Homo sapiens: one gene and its partners. The protein of the gene in region 1 purifies or fractionates together with the protein of each later gene. This does not show direct contact. Each region holds a gene or a part of one and is shown on either strand. Other genes may lie near its edges.

What was found. The genes of interacting proteins can lie anywhere in the genome.
Region 2: the proteins of PACSIN1 (region 1) and RAI14 purify together in Homo sapiens (co-immunoprecipitation; 3 studies listed by BioGRID and IntAct, with this or other methods). This does not show direct contact.
Region 3: the proteins of PACSIN1 (region 1) and MPRIP purify together in Homo sapiens (co-immunoprecipitation; 3 studies listed by BioGRID and IntAct, with this or other methods). This does not show direct contact.
Region 4: the proteins of PACSIN1 (region 1) and TRIOBP purify together in Homo sapiens (co-immunoprecipitation; 3 studies listed by BioGRID and IntAct, with this or other methods). This does not show direct contact.

Annotation. Positions count from the first base shown.
Region 1 is NC_000006.12:34,528,576-34,532,075, forward strand, and holds part of PACSIN1 (protein kinase C and casein kinase substrate in neurons protein 1), read left to right. Parts: intron 1-66; coding exon 67-302; intron 303-821; coding exon 822-977; intron 978-1,090; coding exon 1,091-1,266; intron 1,267-1,667; coding exon 1,668-1,788; intron 1,789-1,884; coding exon 1,885-2,012; intron 2,013-3,024; coding exon 3,025-3,212; intron 3,213-3,500. UniProt on the Homo sapiens protein: Plays a role in the reorganization of the microtubule cytoskeleton via its interaction with MAPT; this decreases microtubule stability and inhibits MAPT-induced microtubule polymerization.
Region 2 is NC_000005.10:34,662,100-34,667,400, forward strand, and holds part of RAI14 (ankycorbin), read left to right. Parts: intron 1-5,301. UniProt on the Homo sapiens protein: Plays a role in actin regulation at the ectoplasmic specialization, a type of cell junction specific to testis. Important for establishment of sperm polarity and normal spermatid adhesion.
Region 3 is NC_000017.11:17,048,229-17,053,529, reverse strand, and holds part of MPRIP (myosin phosphatase Rho-interacting protein), read right to left. Parts: intron 1-5,301. UniProt on the Homo sapiens protein: Targets myosin phosphatase to the actin cytoskeleton. Required for the regulation of the actin cytoskeleton by RhoA and ROCK1.
Region 4 is NC_000022.11:37,699,320-37,704,620, forward strand, and holds part of TRIOBP (TRIO and F-actin-binding protein), read left to right. Parts: intron 1-1,986; 5' UTR 1,987-2,046; coding exon 2,047-2,160; intron 2,161-5,301.

The DNA.
Region 1 (3,500 bases):
GAGATGTGAGGGGGGGCCTCTGGGCAGGGGCAATGAGGTTCTTGTGACCTATTGCCATTCCCTCAGGCCCACAGTATGGCAGCCTGGAGCGGGCCTGGGGTGCCATAATGACAGAGGCAGACAAGGTGAGCGAGCTGCACCAGGAGGTGAAGAACAATCTGCTGAATGAGGACCTGGAGAAGGTGAAGAACTGGCAGAAGGACGCCTATCACAAGCAGATCATGGGTGGCTTCAAGGAGACGAAGGAGGCTGAAGATGGCTTCCGCAAGGCCCAGAAGCCTTGGGCCAAGAAGATGAAGGAGGTGCTCAGTGGGTGCTGCCACGGGCGGGGTGGGGTGGGCCCGTCTGATCAGAGGGTGCTGATCCCAGGGAGGGCATCTATGGATGGGTGGGCTGGGCACTGCCCTCTGGGATTGTGCCCACAGGGGAGCAGCACTGCCTTCCAGGAAAAAATATTCACAGATGGGTAGGCAGTGCCCATTGGGTAAGGAGACCCATGGGCAAAAAGGGGCACTGTCCCCAGGAAAGATACCAGCAGGGGCAGAAGAGCACATTGGCCCCTGGGTCCCCAGATGGGGCGGGCACTGCACTGCCTGACAGGAGGGTATCTGCAGGGGAGCAGGCAGTGCCAAGCAGAGACGCAGCCACAAATGGAGGAGCGCTGCTCCCGAACACCTGGAGCCAGGGCCTGCATCCCTTCTGGCTCTTAAGAGTGTGGGCTCACAGGTCCCAGGGAGTGGGCAGGGGAGGAGTTAATGGGTGACCATGTTTGCTGCTGGTCACAAATGAAAACCCTACTCCCTATTCCCCCCTCCCCACAGCTGGAGGCAGCCAAGAAGGCCTACCATTTGGCTTGCAAAGAGGAAAAGCTGGCCATGACACGGGAGATGAACAGCAAGACGGAGCAATCGGTCACACCTGAGCAGCAAAAGAAGCTGCAGGACAAAGTGGACAAGTGCAAGCAGGATGTGCAGAAGGTGCTGGCGGGCAGGGATGGCAGTAGGGGGTCTGGGGGCCCCTTGCAGAGGGTGGTGGCTGGGAGCTGCAGGCCTGGCTAGGTGTCACCCTCTCTCCACTCTGGTGCCCACAGACACAGGAGAAGTATGAGAAAGTGCTGGAAGATGTGGGCAAGACCACACCCCAGTACATGGAGAACATGGAGCAGGTGTTTGAGCAATGCCAGCAATTTGAGGAAAAGCGGCTGGTCTTCCTCAAGGAGGTGCTGCTGGACATCAAACGGCACCTCAACCTGGCTGAGAACAGCAGGTACCTGGGCATGGCAGGCACCGAGGGCACAGGCACAGCCAGCAGATGGTGTGACTGGCATGCAGGGCATCCCAGCCCTCCATCACAGTGACGGGAAGGGGAGGCAGAGCTGCAGGGGTCAAGAAGGATGAGGCTTCAAACACAGGGGCTGTTGAGTGCAAGCTGACGCACACTGGGTACTCTAGAAACACATGCTGGATGATGGGTGAATGGCTAAGGTGGGAGGGAAAAGGAGTCCACCGAGCATGCCCGGAGCTTATTCTTGCAAAGCCCACATGATTCCTGGCTGGGCAGCATGCCCAGCACCCTGCTTCCCTGAGTGGACTCTGGCCTCTCACCAAGGTTGAGGAGGGGCCATGTTGAATCTGTGCCCTCCACCTCCCCCATCTCCCTGAGCACAGCTACATCCATGTGTACCGTGAGCTGGAGCAGGCCATCCGGGGGGCTGATGCCCAGGAAGACCTCAGATGGTTCCGCAGCACCAGTGGCCCCGGCATGCCCATGAACTGGCCCCAGTTTGAGGTGAGGATATGTGGGGATGGGAAGGGGAGCCTGAAGAGGCTGAAAGGTGCCTCAGGGCATAGTCCCCCAGCCTGACTGCTCCACTGGCCCCACCAGGAGTGGAACCCAGACCTTCCTCACACCACCACCAAGAAGGAGAAACAGCCTAAGAAGGCAGAGGGAGTGGCGCTGACCAATGCCACTGGGGCGGTAGAGTCCACATCCCAGGCTGGGGACCGCGGCAGGTGAGTGCCTCCTGTGGAGCTTCCTGGGGCCAAGAGGGACCCACACTCTGGGGCAGCTGAGTTTTGCTTCAGAAGACAAGAAATGGTCTAGATCATAGCAACTATGTCTCCTCTCTAAAAGATAGTGGTAGTTCATCACTCTAAAGCAGCCGTCCCCAATCTTTTTGGGACCAGGGACCAGTTTTGTGGAAGACAATTTTTCCACGGATGGGAGCGGGGTGGTTTTCGGATGAAACTGTTCCACCTCAGATCATCAGGCGTTAGATTCTCCTAAGGAACGTGCAACCTGGATCCCTCGCATGCGCAGTTCACAATAGGGGGGTTGCGCTCCTATGAGAATCTAACGCCGCGGCTGATCTAACAGGAGGTGCAGCTCAGGCGATAATGCTCCCTCGCCTGTCACTCACCTCCTGCTGTGCTGCCTGGTTCCTAACAGGCCACGGACTGTCTGCAGCCCCAGGGTTGGGGACCCCGGTCCAGATCACAGGAACCAAGCCTCCTCTCTAAAAGATAGTGGTAGCATATCCTTCTAGAGCACCTACTGTGTGTGGCACGGTTCTATGCACTTTCCATATGTTAACTCATTCATGCTCAAGTGCGTAAATATTACCATTTTACAGATGGAGAAACTGAAACCCAGACAGGTTAAGTGACTTGCCCAAGATCACATTGCTAGTTAGTAAACCTCAGAGCCAGATATGTTGCCCAGGAGGTCTGACTCCAGGATCCTTGCTCTTAAACATTAGGTGGTACTCCTCCTCCCGGATGAAGGCTCAGATGTGCCCTGGGGTCCCCTTCAATGCCCTCTCCCTCGAGGGCTGAATAATAACGCAAATGGTCCTGCATTTAAACATCGGTTTAAAGAGCTCATGAGGGTCACCCCTCCTATGTGGCCAATCCTTGCTCTAGCCTTGGTAGAATTCGGGATCAGGGCTCTGATTAGGAGGAGCGGTTAGCCCTCGGGATGCGGTACGGGGAGACATTGAAGCTGGCTCCTTCCTCCGCGTCTCAGTGTTAGCAGCTACGACAGAGGCCAGCCCTACGCCACCGAGTGGTCAGACGACGAGAGTGGGAACCCCTTTGGGGGCAGTGAGACCAACGGGGGCGCCAACCCCTTTGAGGACGACTCCAAGGGAGTGCGCGTGCGGGCACTCTACGACTATGACGGCCAGGAGCAGGACGAGCTCAGCTTTAAGGCCGGTAGGACGGCTGGGCGGGGCAGTGCCTGAGAGAGGCTTGGGCCTGGATTGGGTGTGTGGTGGTGCAGGGGCGGTGCCTGAGAGAGAAGCTTGGGTCTGGATTGGGTGTGTGGTGGTGCAGGGGCGGTGCCTGAGAGAGAAGCTTGGGTCTGGATTGGGTGTGTGGTGGGGCAGGGGTGGTGCCTGAAAGAGAGGCTTGGGCCTGCATTGGGTGTGTGGTGGGGTAGAGGCAGGATCTGAAGACGGGTTGCGAGGATTTGCAGGGAACTAAATGGGGCGTGGCCTGGGT
Region 2 (5,301 bases), on another chromosome or scaffold:
TCTAAGAACAAACAGTGTATTTTGTTGGATTGTTGCAGAGTGTACATCATCATTGCCCTGACTTTGTGCTTTTATCTATGAGGATTTTTTTGGAGGGGGAGGAGGGATGTATTTTTCATGATGGAAGGAAAATGAGAACCTTAATCTGAAGATGTTGGAGCAACTAATATGTAGAAAGGTCCCTAGATATACTCTAAGAATTGCCACATCGTACAGTCCTTAATTCATGGCACAAAAAACATTCACTATTATAGCACTAATGCATTGTTTCAGTAGAAGCCAACTGAATTTTTTCTACCTTGCATGATGAGTATAGGAGTTGACAAAACAAAGCTAAATATATCAGAGGCCTCTTGGATGCATTTTATATGGTGATAGGGAAAAGGAGTCTAGATTTTTTTTCCCAGTGAACTATATTAGGTATACGATACTGATGATATCCTTTAAAACATTACTAGAATACTGAAGTACACCATTTACATTTCTTATTGTATCCTCTGTAATAAAATGATATTGAAAGAAATCAGTATATTATGGATCCAGATAGGGTTAAACTTTAAGCTGAAAATCATAAACATAGAATTATATGATTATTAGTAAAATGTTGCACAATTTAAACAGATTTTTTTTTTTTTTTTTTTTTTTTAGACACAGAGTCTCACTCTGTTGCCCACGCGGGAGTGCAATAGGGTGATCTCGGCTCACTGCAACCTCCGCCTCTCAAGTTCAATCAATTCTCCTGCCTCAGCCTCCTGAGTAGCTGGGACTGCAGGTACATGCCACCATGCCCGGCTGATTTTTGTATTTTTAGTAGAGATGGGGTTTCATGTTGGCCATGGCTGGCCAGGCTGGTCTCGAACTCCTGACCTCAAGTGATCCACCTGCCTTGGCCTCCCAAAGTGCTGGGATTACAGGTGTGAGCCACCATGCCCAGTTTAAAGATATTTCTTCCCTTTGTAGTTAGTCATGAGCTGAAAAGTACAGGTGGTTCAACAAAAGATAAAAATTGTTCATCAAATGTCAATTTTCTAGCTCCAGCCATCTACAATGAACAAAAAAATTAGCCTCGTCTTTGACATCAGGCCCACTGAGAGATATCAGCAAATCTAATCAGTATTTTAAAAAGTAACTTTTGGCCAGGCATGGTGGTTCACACCTGTAATTCTAGCACTTTGAGAAGCTGAGGCAGGAAGATCACTTAAGCCCAGGAGTTAAGAGACCAGCTTGGGAAACATGGCGAAACTTTGTCTCTAAAAAAATACAAAAATTAGTTGGGCATGGTGGTGCATTCCTGTAGTCCCAGCTACTCAGGAGGCTGAGGTGGGAGGATCACCTCAACCCATGAGATCGAGGGTTGCAGTGAGCCAAAATCTTACCACTACACTCCAGCATGGGCAACAGAGTGAGACCCTGTCTAAAAAAATAAATAAATACAAATAAAAAGTAACTTTACTGACTTAACCATGTGTTTAAAAACAAAGCAGTACCTTCTTCTGTTTAACTGAAGGAAGCATGCCTTGTTCTTCAATTTTATATTCTATGTGTCCAGTAGAGTATCTGCCACACAGTAGGAGATTAACATCTCTCAACTACTCCTGCCTCAGAGGTCATTAAGCCCCTCATGGCGGTCATCAGATATAGAGTTGTCCTAGTCTAGAGGAGAATTAAACAATAATCAAAAGGCAGAAATCAGCAACAAAGTGCGAAGTCGAAGTTCAGAAGATGTGAAAGAAACACTTTTCCTCCTTATCCACTCTTTGCGGAAGTTTGTGCATTGTGTCTTGATTGATTCACCAGCTGGGTTTTTGTGATCAGTGTCACCTCATCTAACCTTACTTGCGATCTAGGCCAGTCCCTTCTGTAGTGAATGGCATTCACTGGAAATTAGTCTTGCCGTATAATTCCATGACCATATGTCACACCGGGGCAAGGGGACACCTTTGGGAAGTTCTTCATGATTTGCTAATCCCTGCTTCTAAATAAGCAGAATCTAGTTGTGAGAAAAGGTGGTTGTAGTCCAAGAAGCTTACTGTACAGTGGAAGGAAATACATGGGCTCTTTTTTTTTCTTTCCTTATTTATTTATTTATTTTCTTAAATTGACATTTAGGCCAGGCACAGTGGCTGCTGCCTGTAATCCAAGCCCTTTGAGAGGCTGAGGAGGGCAGACCACTTGAGCTCAGGAGTTCAAGACCAGTCTGGGCAACATGGCACAAAACCCCATATCTACTTTAAAAAAAAAAAGTATATTTATATTGCAGTGAGCCAAGATCACACCACTGCACTCCAGCCTGGGTGACAGCGAGACACTGTCTCAAAAAAAAAAAAAAAAGGAAAGAAAAAAATTGACATTTAGTGAACACCAAAGCTTATTATCAAGGAACCAGTTTCCCTTACACTTATTTATTATATTACCTTTTAAAGCTCAACTTAATTTTTCATATCCATTTTAGGTATTGTTATCGATAAGATATTCTGTTTTCTTATGATCTAGATAAGTTCAATTTGCTTAATTAATTTATTTATTAAATTTTTTATTTCCATGGGTTATTGGGGAACTGGGTGTTTGGTTACATGAGTAAGTTCTTTAGTGGTGATTTGTGAGATTTTGGTGTACCCATCACCTGAGCAGTATACGCTGCATCCTATTTGTAGTCTTTTATCCCTCACTCCCTTCCCACCCTTTCCTCCTGAGTCCCCAAAGTCCATTTTGTCATTCTTATGCCTTTGCATCCTCATAGCTTAGCTCCTACTTATGGGTAGGAATGTACGATGTTTGGCTTTCCATTCCTGAGTTACTTCACTTAGAATAATAATCTCCAATCTCATCCAGGTCACTGTGAATGCTATTAGTTCACTCCTTTTTATGGCTAAGTAGTATCCATCATATATATATATATATGTGTATATATATATATATGTGTATATATATATGTATATATATGTGTATATATATGTGTATATATATGTGTATATATATGTGTATATATATGTGTATATATATGTGTATATATATGTGTATATATGTATGTGTATATATATACACATATATATGTGTGTGTATATATATATATACACACATATATATATGTATATATATACACACACCACAGTTTCTTTATCCACTCATTGATTGATGGGTATTTGGGTTGGTTCCACGTTTTTGCAATCAGTTTGCTTAATTTAGCTGTTCTTTTCAAAGAGATAATAACTCTAAAACTAACAAGCAGCATCTACCTCTTTTCACTTTCACTAAGTCTGTCCAGTTCCTTTTGCTGGCTGAAGTGATAGACACTCAGAAAACAGGCAGTGTTAACTGATGGAGAATAAAAGGCCAGAGAAGCCTCCTTTTGCACTAGGGCAGCACAGAGTAAAGTGTTTTCCATTTTTTTTTCTTTTTTTTTTTTTTTCTCTAAGAGGAATCCATTTGCAAACCAGAGAAAACCATCCAGCAGTGATTCTTAAATATTCGTGAGGCATAGATGGACACTTGCAAATCTGATGGGGGTTTTGGACCATTCTTCCTTGGAGAAACTGATGTATGTACAATGATGCTATAAATTCATAATTTTTATCAGTCTCATGAGTTTCATGGAACTCCTTGCCCTAAGGCCATTTATAAACCTCCTTGGAATACCCAGGTTAAGAACCCACAATGACCACCTCTCAAAGTTTGAGAATACAATTACAAGGGCTCTATTTTTCTATCATGTGCCGCTATTCCCCACCCCACTGCCACCCACAGTTCGAAAACCTATCATACATGAGTGAAAAGTAATAATTGTGGGTTTTATACTCTCAATTTGAAAACTAGTCATCGGTTGCTATGTCAACCAGTCAACATACTATTGACCATTTTTAGGATCTATTTCTATTGGATGTAATAAAATGCAATTTATATGCAATGAAAAGGTGGTTTTGTAATATGACTATTTCACAGAGACCTGATGAATTCTAAGGATGAGTCTTAAGTTTCTCACCCCAAGGAGTTGGGTCTGTTCTGTCTTCAGCTTTTGGTGGCAGCAGTTTCCCAGTTTTGCTGTTAACAGGAAGGAATGGAGATGTCCCAGGCCCCACCTGACAATTCTTGTAGTCTCACAGGAGATGTCCTGCGCCCCACTTGACAATACTCCTAGGCTCACAGTAGGTGTCCCAGGCAACCCCTGACAGTACTCCTAGGCTCACAGATGTCCCGGCCCCCCGACAGTACTCCTAGTCTCACAGTAGGTGTCCCAGGCACCTCCTGACAGTACTTCTAGGCTCACAGGTAGGCCTTTGGCTGCTCAGCCCAGTGGGGGAAATATCCCCAACTGGCTCTTCACTTTGCCTTTTTCTTCTTGGCCCCCCAGCCTGATGTGGCTGTCTTGATGGGGACCTGAAGAAGACAGGGCCACACTTTTAGTTGAGGAACTGACCCTCAGCTGGAAGCCTGCTCTTCTGGAGGAAAACATGCTTCTGTGGGAAGTATTGTGCATGGGGGAAGGGACTGCCACGTCAGCTGTACTCAGAACTGCTAATATCAGCATTCACCTTGGGTGACGTCCTCAAGCCATTTCAGTCAAAAACCAAGCAAAAAGGGCTGTGGATCTGCCTGTAACAGGCTGCCTGCCTGACCTGACAGAAGCTCTTCAGATGGGTCATTGTAATTGACTTGAGCACCTTCTCTGCCATAGGCACTTTGCTGCTGGACTGTCCTCGAATAAGGTCAGGGCTGGCCGTAGTCATTGTCAGGTTTCCCATTACCAGTATGTGTTGATGGGATAATTGGGTATTAGAAGATCTCTGGATGAATGACAAGCCCTGCCCTCGGGGACTTAAGAGTTTTAGCCAGGTTAGATATGGTCGCAATCTGCCACAGTACAAGGCGACTGTTAGTGGTGGGAATGGGGTGGCGGTGGTGGGAGGGAATTCTTTTCACAGATGAGGCTGAGGCCTAGAGAAATGGCCCCTTGGAAAGGGACAGTTAATGAGAGGCAGAGATGGATGAGACCCTGGTACTGGCTGCTCAGCACTGCACTTCTACACATTATACTTTTCTGTTTCTCTCACAGGTCAACAGTGACCTTGAGACTCCTGTATGTAGCTAATTATAATTGTTATTTGGAATTGATATCATTTTTCTATTTTGAGAAAATGTTCACGTTTCTCTTTTTTTCTGAGACAGGATCTCGCTCTGTCCCTTAGGCTGGAGTGCAGTGGTGCAATCTTAGCTCACCGCAGCCTTGACCTCCTGGGCTCAAGCAGTCCTCCCACCTTAGCCTCCCTGGAGCTGGCACTACAGGTGTGTACCACCACTCCTGGT
Region 3 (5,301 bases), on another chromosome or scaffold:
GGGCAAGATCCGTGTCCCACACACAGCTCCATACTACATGGTTTATTGCTGATAAAACGGACCCCATTTACTAAGCACCCACCATATAACCCAGTATTTACAAACTCTGCCCTTGCCACAGATCCTGCGGTTGCTGAGGACTTTGGAAGCATCTTCCTGCATCCTCATCAGGACCCAAAGCCATGGGTACTATTATTATAACCCCCCAGTTTTCAGATGAGGGGCATAGATGCTTCAGCTCTAAGTAACTTGCTCCATTAGCATGGAAAATGGAGCTAGAATGGAAACTCAAATCTGGGCTCGCCACCATTCCAATTCCCTTGCCTGGGCGCACTGAAATGAAAAGTGGGACTGTGTCAGATTTCTAGGTCAGAGCAGGTCCCCAAGCAGAAGCCATGCAAATGCCCTGACCCACCCCTCCCGCGGCCCTGAGGCTCCTGAGCCTCAAGTGGCTCACCCAGTCCTGATAGTGAGGCTCTGGGTATGGCATCAGGAGACCCAGGAGACATGGCCCCTTTCTCTGGCTCAGCTGGGGCTCCCTGCAGCTGCTCCCCCTTCCCTTGGCCCCTTTATCTATGGGAAGGACCACGAGGAGGTCAGAAACCTTGTGTGGAAAGTGCGCCACGGTTGCTTGTGGGTCTGTTAAATCCAGTGCCTCAGAACCTACAGAGATCAAGGACAAAGCTATTTCCTGATTCTGAATTCCTCTTTCAGAGGAAAAAATTGTGCTTCCTGTTCAGAGCTGTGCCAAAGGTGTGGCTGCTGCCTAGGCCAGTAGCCCATGTTGGGGATGTGGGGCACCCCGAGGCTGAGGAGAGGTGAAGATCTGGGCGATGCCCTGCACAACAGCCTGCACCGTTCACACACACGCCCCACCACACACTCAAGAACTAAGGAGTCCAAGTTGGGGCAAGGCCCTGTTCCTGATAGCAAAGGTTAACACTTATTAGAGACAAGGTGGCCAAACAGGACTTTGGAAAAAATCGTGCTGGACTTCCTGTGACCTAGGCAGGTCGCTGAACCTCTGCTGAACCTCTCCAGGTCTCGGCGGCTCCATCTGCTAATTGAAGACAATCCCTCACCTGCATAATGTGGGGGAAAGGCAGGGAGGGCAGGTGCAGACAGCCCCAGCAGGTCCCTCTTCCCAGGGCTAGGAACTAGAAGTCCAGGAAACAGCTGTGATTTATTCTGCAGCACTGCAATATACCAATCTCCCTACTACCCATCTGCCCCGGGGCCAAACAAAAACACTAAGGAGTTTACAAAGCAAAGTGGCCTTCCCAAGGACAGGGAGGATGAGTCTGGAGCCAGGGTGGAGTCTGGAGCCAGGGTGGACTCTGGCACGGGAGCCTCATGGAGCTGAAATCTGTATCACGGCCCCATTGCTGAGCAGCTCAGTGACCTTGGGCAGGCCGCTCAACCACTCTGAAAACTCAGGGTCCCCTCCTCCGAGGGAGGCCTTGCTGCCACCAGCCCTGCTGGCCACCCTTGCCTGCTGAGGTCTGTGTGAAATCACGGGCTATGACACAATATAGTAGGTAGAGGTTCAAAGGATCCGGCAGGCCCATCCACTCAGAGTCTCGCTGCAAAGCAGCTCTGACACCAGGGCCACCTCTGGCACAGCATGCAACCGCCAAGCTGCGCCCAAGGGGAAGGAGCCAGAAGGGTTACAGGCTCCAGGCAAAAACCAGGCTGTGGTTTCATGTGAACTAGGATGACCCTGACTGAGAAAACCAGTGAGTGGTTTGGAAGATTTCAGTTCCAGCTTCCAGAGACAAAATGTCAGTGAATCAACCCCCTAGGTGCTCTTGCCCCCAACGGAAGTGACAATGCCTTGAGAGCTCTGGGTAGGGCATGGGGGCTCCATTCCAGAGCAGCTGTAAGACTGCCTCAATTGCTAAAACTGGAAAAAGCACAAAATCTAGGGCAGAGTTTTCGAACCTGCCCCAAATGGCCCCAGAGATGACCCAAGGCCCTCCCCCGCCACCCCGCCCCAGGATGGGAGGCCAAGCTCCAGGCTTTGGCTGCCTTGCCCAGAGCTGCACTGCTTTTGATGAAAGCTTGAAAACCATCCACCTGGTCCAACGGTGTCATTCAGCTGAGAAAGAGTGGCTTGGGGAATGAGTTTCCCAGGATAAGAGAAGAGCCCGTTTTCTTAGGTCAGATGCTTCCAAATTAGCACCCAATGATCCTCCATGTCCAGTAGTAGGATGTCTTCCCCTGTGCCTCGCTGCCACACTCTCTCCCTCTTTCAAGACTAAGTGGCAGCTTGGGAACAATTTAAACATTCTGAGTTAAATTTCTTTATTTCTGCTAAAGAACATGAGGTTGCCCAAAGAAAGGCTACTTCCCCCAGAGGCGGCAGCCAGCGTGCTTCCTGGAACATCCCTCACCACATGGGGGGCTCAGGAACTCCCCATTCCATCAGCACACTACTCTGCAAAGAGAAGGCAGGCACCCGCTTTACAGGTGGGAGACATAAGTCACCTTCCTGGGTCACCCTGCACATTTGTGTCAGGAAGAGAACATAGGCCTTGGACTATAGTCCTTCTGTGTGGCAAGGGAAAGAGAAATCAGAGGAAAAGATCAGGTAACAGGCTAGAACCCAGGGAAAAAAGCTAGGGTGCAATTACATAATACTGGAACATTGCACGTCCAGTTTAGAGGGGGATACGCCAGCCTGCCCACCACGGCCCTCACCGGCTCCCCACAGGACAGGCCTGAGGCCCTGGCAAGGACCTTCCTCCCTTCTGCCCCTAAACTCTGCCTCTGGGCAGGGAGTGGGGATCAGAGCCCAGAAGAGAACTTCTAACACACCAAAAGAAGCCATCAAAGATGTGATAGTCAAAGAAAGAAACTTCAAAAGTTGGCAATAGACACCAAGGGCCAAGGAGGAGTGGGGACACAAACAGGAGTAACAAGTCCCAGAGAAGCAGCACTCCAGGAACCTTCCAACCCAAGGCCCAAGGGAGGGACGGAGGAAACTCACCACCACCTGTGGCACCCCAGGGCTGCCACCAGGACTGCGGGCAGCGGCCACACCACCAGGCTACTAAGCAGTGGGAAAGTGGCTCGTCTGAGCTGAAATGTGCTGTAACGTAAAATGCGCACGTCATAACTTTTTTGCATGGTGTAATGACAGTATTTTGGATATATCTGGTTAAATAAAACATAATTAAAATTAATTTCACCTCTTTTTTTTTTTTTTTTTTTTTGAGACGGAGTCTCACTCTATTGCCCAGGCTGGAGTGCAGTGGCGCAATCTCAGCTCACTGCAAGCTCCGCCTCCCGGGTTCACACCATTCTCCTGCCTCAGCCTCCTGAGTAGCTGGGACTACAGGCGCCCACCACCACGCCCGATTAATTTTTTGTATTTTTAGTAGAGACAGGGTTTCACCGTGGTCTCGATCTCCTGACCTCGTGATCCACCCGCCTCGGCCTCCCAAAGTGCTGGGATTGCAGGCGTGAGCCACTGTGCCCGGCCCCGACTAATTTATTGTATTTTTAGTAGAGACGGGTTTCACTGTGTTAGCCAGGATGGTCTTGATCTCCTGACCTCGTGATCCGCCCGTCTCGGCCTCCCAAAGTGCTGAAATTACAGGCGTGAGCCACTGCACCCGGCCCCTCTTTTTACTTTTTTAACGTAGCCGCTGGAAAATTTAAAATTTCCTATGTGGCTTCCATTACAGTTCTAGAGGACAGGGCTGGTCTGAGGGGTGGCACACTGTGCCCCTGTGCCAAATTGGCCCACCAGCTGCTTTTCTAAGACCCCAAAACCAAGAATGGCTTTTACATTTTTAAGTGGCTATATCCTACACAACCTCCTCGATTTTGCCTGTTGGCCTGCAAAACCTAAAATATACAAGATTTCTTTTGAGTAAAAGGCTCCGGGATTTGATGAAAGCTTGAAAACCACCGACCTGGTCCAACTGTGTCATTCAGGTGGGAAAGAGTGGCTTGGGGAAGGAGTTCCCCAGGATAAAAGAAGAGTCCTTTATAAAAAAAATTGCCAAGCCTTGGTCTAGACTCTAGAAACAATCAGATATTCACTCCAGGTGACACAAGGAGCAGAAGGCAGGTGTGTGTGTGTGAGAGAGCGATTCTTGTACAGACAGTCCCTGACTTATAATTTTGACTTTGTGATAGGTCTGATGGGTTTTACCTGGATGTACCCCCACCATAAGTCCCATCATAAGTCAAGAAGCATTTGGAAGTGAACAATTCAGGGGCATTTAGTACATTTCACAAGGCTGTGCAACCAGCACTTTTATCTAGTTCCAAAACATTTCATCACCCCCAAAATAGAACCCCAGTCTCATTAGCAGTCATTCCACATTGCCCACCCAACCCTCAGGCTCTGGCAACAACCGATCTGCTTTCTGTTTCTACAGATTTACCTGTTTTGGACATTTTACATAAATGGAATCACACAGTATGTGACACATGACCTTTCATGTCTGCCTCTTAGCGCAATGTTTTCTAGGTTCGTCCATGTTGTGGCATGTCTCAGTACTTCGCTCCTTCTTAGAACTGAATGATATTCCATGGTATGGATACACTATGATTTGCTTATCTACGCATTAGTGGATGGACACTTGGATTGTTGCTGCCGTTTGGCTATTGTGAGTAGTGCTGTTATGAACATTTGTATACAAGTATCTGTTTGAATACACCTGTCCTCAATTCTTCTTGGCATATACCTAGAAGTGGGAATGCTGGCTCACGTGGTAGGTTTTATGCTGAACTTTTTGAGAAACCCCCAAACTGTTTCCACAGCAGCTACACCATTTCATTCCCACCAGCAACGTGCAAGAGTTATAACTTCTTCACATCCTCGCCAACATGTTATATTCTTATTTTTTTAATTCTAGCCATCCTGACAGGTATGAAGTGATATCTCACTGTGGTTTCAATTTGGGTTTCGCTGATGACAACGCTGAGCATTTGTCATGGTGCTTGGCCGTCTGAAATGGGATTTTGTGTGTCTGAGATTTTTGACACGCTCCCTGCCAAGCAACACACCAACTCCTGTTACAGATCTTCTACAAGGGGGGGATGCGAAATCTCCCCGTTGTTTCTGAGATACACATTAAGTCAAATCAGGAAGTCCTATGCCTTAGAACTTCTACGAATGTCTACAGGAACAAAGGGAAACCTGATGAAATGCTTCCCTGAGACCTCGTCCTGGCCCACACCCTCTATGTCTGAAATTCCCACCTGAGGCCCCCGCAGCTTTGGAGCCTTGGCAGTGGGGTATGGGCACAGCAAGGGCAGAATCACACCAGGAAGACTAAGAACCCT
Region 4 (5,301 bases), on another chromosome or scaffold:
CCTGTGCGAGTTGGCAGTATGATCCAGTGCTCCTCACTTCCACCTCCGAGAGAGCAGGGACACACACAGCCCTGGATTTGAATCAGCCACTGCGACCTTCAGTGACCGAAGGAACCTCTCTGAGCCTTAGTTGCCTGATCTAAAATTGGCATTAATTTGATCTACAATGCAGCTATAAGACAAGGACACTCAAACTTTGGGGCGCACTAGAATCACCTGGGGAATCACTTTTTTTTTTTAAGACAGAGTCTCACTCTTATCACCCAGGCTGGAGTACAGTGGTGCAATCTTGGCTCACTGCAACCTCCGCCTCCTGGGTTCAAGTGATTCTCCTGCCTCAGCCTCCCGAGTAACTGGGACTACAGGTGCATACCACCATGCCTGGCTAATTTTGTATTTTTAGTAGAGACAGGGTTTGGCAATATTGGCCAGGCTGGTCTCGAACTCCTGACCTCAGGTGATCTGCCCGCCTCGGCCTCCCAAAGTGCTGGGATTATAGGCGTGAGCCACTGCGCCTGGCCAGGAATCGCTTCTTTATTTTCATTTTCATTTATTTATTTATTTATTTATTTATTTTGAGATGGAGTCTCGCTCTGTTGCTCAGTCTGGAGTGAAGTGGCGTGCTCTCCGCTCACTGCTACCTCTGCCTCCCAGGTTCAAGCGATTCTCGTGCCTCAGCCTCCCAAGTAGCTGGGACTACAGGTGCGTGCTACCACGCCCAGCTAATTTTTGTATTTAGTAGAGGCGGGGTTTCACCATGTTGGCCAGGCTGGTCTTGAACTCCTGGCCTCAAGTGATCTGCCTGCCTCAGCCTCCCAAAGTGCTGGGATTACAGGCGTGAGCCACCGCCCTCGGCTGGAATCACTTCTTTAACATGCACAGCCCCAGACCTCAGTCTCTTGGAGATTCTAACTGTGTGAATTGGGAGAGAGAAAGGGGAATCTAGATTTTTTTTTTTTTTTTTTGAGATGTGGTCTTGCTATGTTGCCTAGGCTGGAGTGCTGTAACTATTCACAGGTGCAGTTATAGCACACTACCACCTCAAACTCCTGGGCTCAAGAGATCCTCCCACCTCTGCCTCCCGAGTAGCTTGGACTGCAGGTGCACACCATCTTACCCAGCTGAAATCTGCTTTTTTTTTTTCTCAGTGCAGTGGCACAGTCATGGCTCACTGCAGCCTCGACCTCCCAGACTCAGGTGATCCTCCCAACTTCAGCCTCCTGAGTAGCAGGGACCACAGGCCTGCACCACCTTGCCCAGCTAATTTTTGTATTTTTTGTAGAGACGGAGTTTCGCCAGTTGCCCAGGATGGTCTTGAACTCTTGGGCTCAAATGATCCGCCGCCCGCAATGGGCCCAGCTGGAATCTGCATTTTTTTGTTTTTTGTTTTGAGATGAAGTCTCACTCTGTCGCCCAGGCTGGAGTGCAATGGCGCAATCTTGGCTCACTGCAACCTCCGCCTCCTGGGTTCAAGCCATTCTCCTGCCTCAGGCTCCCAAGTAGCTGGGATTACAGGCACGTGCCATCACACTTGGCTGATTTTTGTATTTTTAGTAGAGACAGGGTTTTACCATATTGGCCAGGCTGGTCTCGAACTCCTGACCTCAAGTGATCGGCCCACCTCGGCCTCCCAAAGTGCTGGGATTACAGGCATCAGCCACTGTGCCTGGCCTGGTATCTGCATTTTTATGAACAGCCCAGGAGGGTGTAATGCAGAGTCCTTGGCGTGCACTTTCAGCAACACTGCAGTAAGGACTAGAAATCGCACATCAAATGCTGGCAGAGTGCCTGGTGCTTAGTAGGTGCTTAGTGAGTGTTTGTTGAGTGAATAAATGAACAGGAATGGATGGAGAACAGGAACCCAAAGGAATGGATGAGTAACCTTATTTCCTTGGTCCTTGTCTGGAAACTGGGGCAACTGGGGCTGGGGTTCAGGTGAGTGGCCAGCCAGTCATCTGGTCTTTGCCTCCCCCTCATTTTTGCCAGGCCTCACATAGACGGTCAGCCATTGGATCATAGGAACTGCCCTGGCCTGACTCACCCAATATGGAGGAGGTGCCTGGGGATGCCCTGTGTGAACACTTTGAGGCCAACATACTTACCCAGAACCGCTGTCAAAACTGCTTCCACCCTGAGGAGGCCCATGGAGCAAGATACCAGGTGGGCCAGTTTTCCACGTGGTTGGGGTGGTTTGTGATGGGGGCATGGGTGAAGGACTGGGCCTGTGGTGTCCGCTAACTCGCAGTTGAACCCAGATGCTGGACTTCCTCCTGTCGAGAGCCTCGGTTTTCCCACATTGCAGGGAAGTGGTTGAACCATGTGAATGTTTCACAATCTTCAGTCACTTTCCTCCTGCTTATATGATACGATTGTTACCATAGCCTTATCTAATCTGTTACTTACTTTGTTATTCTTTAAATCAACATCTTTTTCCCCTTCTATTGAAACAAAACTTCACATCATCAACACAAGTAGAAAACTAGAATTACTTCCTGTTAAGAAGAAGAGGTTAAGAAGAAAGGTAGAGGCTGGGCACGGTGGCTCACGCCTGTAATCCCAGCACTTTGGGAGGCCGAGGTGGGTGGATCACCCGAGGTCGGGAGTTTGAAACCAGCCTGGCCAACATGGTGAAAATTAGCTGGGCATGGTGGTGCATGCCTGTAATCCCAGCTACTTGGGAGGCTGAGGCAGGAGAATCACTTGAACCTGGGAGGCGGAGATTGTGGTGAGCCGAGATCGCGCCATTGCACTCCAGCCTGGGCAACAGAATGAAACTGTCTCAAAAAACAAAACAAAACAAAACAAAAAAGAGAAGAAAGGTAGAAAAAGAAAAAACAAAACAGAAATGTCGTTACACCCTAACTTGAGAGTGTTTTCTTTTTCTTTTTCTTTTTTTTGAGACAGAGTCTCACTCTGTCGCCTGGGCTAGAGTGCAATGGCAATGGTGTGATCTCAGCTCACTGCAATCTCTGCCTCCTAGGTTCAAGCGATCCTCCCGCCTCAGCCTCCCAAGTATTGGGATTACAGGTGCCTGCCACCATGCCCAGCTAATTTTTGTATTTTTAGTAGAAACGGGGTTTCGCCATATTGGCCAGGCTGGTCTTAAACTCCTGACCTCAGGTGATCCACCCGCCTCAGCCTCCCAAAGTGTTGGGATTACAGGCGTGAGCCACCGCGCCTGGCCTCGAGAGTGTTTTCTATGGAAGGCTCTGAGCTTGCATCCTGCTGTCTCTTTGTCAAAAAGGGAGATTAGCAGATGTTAGAGAGATGTTAAGAATACACCAGCATCATCTAGAGATTTTCTTTCTCTCTCTCTTTTTTTTTTTTTTTTTTTTTTTTGGAGATAGGGTCTTGCTCTGTAGCACAGGCTGGAGTGCAGTGGTCCAACCTATAGTACATGGCTCACTGTAGCCTCGACCTCCCAGGCTCAAATGATCTTCCCACCTTGGCCTCCTGAGTAGCAGGGACTACAGGCACATGCCACCATGGCCAGCTAATTTTCTTGTAAAGATGGGATCTCACTATGTTGCCAGGGCTGGTCTCAAATTCCTGGGCTCAGGTGATCCTCCCACCTCAACCTCTGTAACTGCAGGGATTACAGGTGTGAGACACTGCACCTGGTCTCAAGATTTTCTTCTTCAAGTTATTGAAGGAGTGAAGAAGAATCCTTTTTTTTCTTTCTTTTTTTTTCATTTGAGACGGAGTCTCTCTCTGTCGCCAGGCTAGAGTTCAGTGGCTCAATCTCAGCTCACTGCAACCTCCGTCTCCTGGGTTCAAGCAATTCTCCTGCCTCAGCCTCCTGAGTACCTGGGATTACAGGTGCCCACCACCATGCCCAGCTAATTTTTGTATCTTTAGTAGAGACAGGGTTTCACCATGTTGGTCAGTCTGGTCTCGAACTCCTGACCTTGTGATCTGTCTGCCTCGGCTTCCCAAAGTGCTGGGATTACAGGTGTGAGCCACCGCGCCTGGCCGAGATTTTCTTCTTCAAGTTATTGAAGGAGTGAAGAAGAGTCCTTTTCTGACTTTGTGATTGATGTAGTCTGCTGCCAAGCCCCCATGCATGTAAACACAGAGCACCTGATACACACGCAATGAGAAACCTGGGACTCACGAACCTCCGAGGGCCCTTCCAACCTTGACCACCATGGCTTCGTCATTCCCATTGGGGTCTGAAGGTCCTCTTTTTTTTTTTTTTTTTTTGAGACAGAGTCTCGTTCTGTTGCCCAGGCTGGAGTACAGTGGTGCGATCTGGGCTCACTGCAAGCTCGGCCTCCCAGGTTTATGCCATTCTCCTGCCTCAGCCTCATGAGTAGCTGGGACAACAGGCACCCGGCACCACGCCCAGCTAATTTTTTGTCTTTTTAGTAGAGACAGGGTTTCACCATGTTAGCCAGGATGGCCTCGATCTTCCTGACCTCGTTATTCGCCCACCTCGACCTCCCAAAGTGCTGGGATTACAGGCATGAGCCACCGCGCCCAGCTTCTACCAGTCTTGATACCTCCAATAATAGCTCTCTTGTGCTCACCTGCAAGTTCAGGTTCAGGGAACAGATGCCTGGGAGTCCATCTTTCATGCAAATGACTTTCTTCCAGTGGTTGGGAAGATGGCAAGAATGGAACAGGAGAGCCGTGGATTCAGGCTCGTCTGAGTTCTAGTCTCAATCCCACCATTTCCCACCCGAGACCGTGGGTCAGCTCACAAATTCATACGTACTGAATAGGTGCTTAAAATGTGCCAGGCATTATGCTAGATGATGGGGAAATCATGATAAATCAGAAAGGCACAGCCAGGCACAGTGACTCACTCCTGTAATCCCAGCACTTTGGGAGGCCAAGGTGGGTGGATCACTTGGAGTTTGAGACCATCCTGGCAACATGGCAAAACCCCATCTCTACAAAAAATTTAAAAAATTAGCTGGGCGTAGTGGGATGCGGCTATAGTCTCAGTTACTCAGGAGGCTGAGGTGGGAGAATCACCTGAGACTGGGAGGCGGGGGCTTCAGTGAGCCGTGATCGCATTACTGTATTTCAGCCTGGGTGACAGAGTTGGACCCTGACTCAGAACAGAACAGAACAGAACAGAACAGAACAGAACAGAACAGAACAGAACAGAACAGTACAGAAAACAGGGAGAAGGAGGGGAAGGGGGAGGGGAAGGGGGAGGGGGAGAGAGAGGAGGAGAGGAGGAGAGAGGGACACATCCCTGGCTTGTCTTCATGGGGCTTATATTCTAGCAAGAGAAATGCACATGATTATTTAATCTTGGTTGTGATAAATGTATAAAGGAACAGTAAGTGG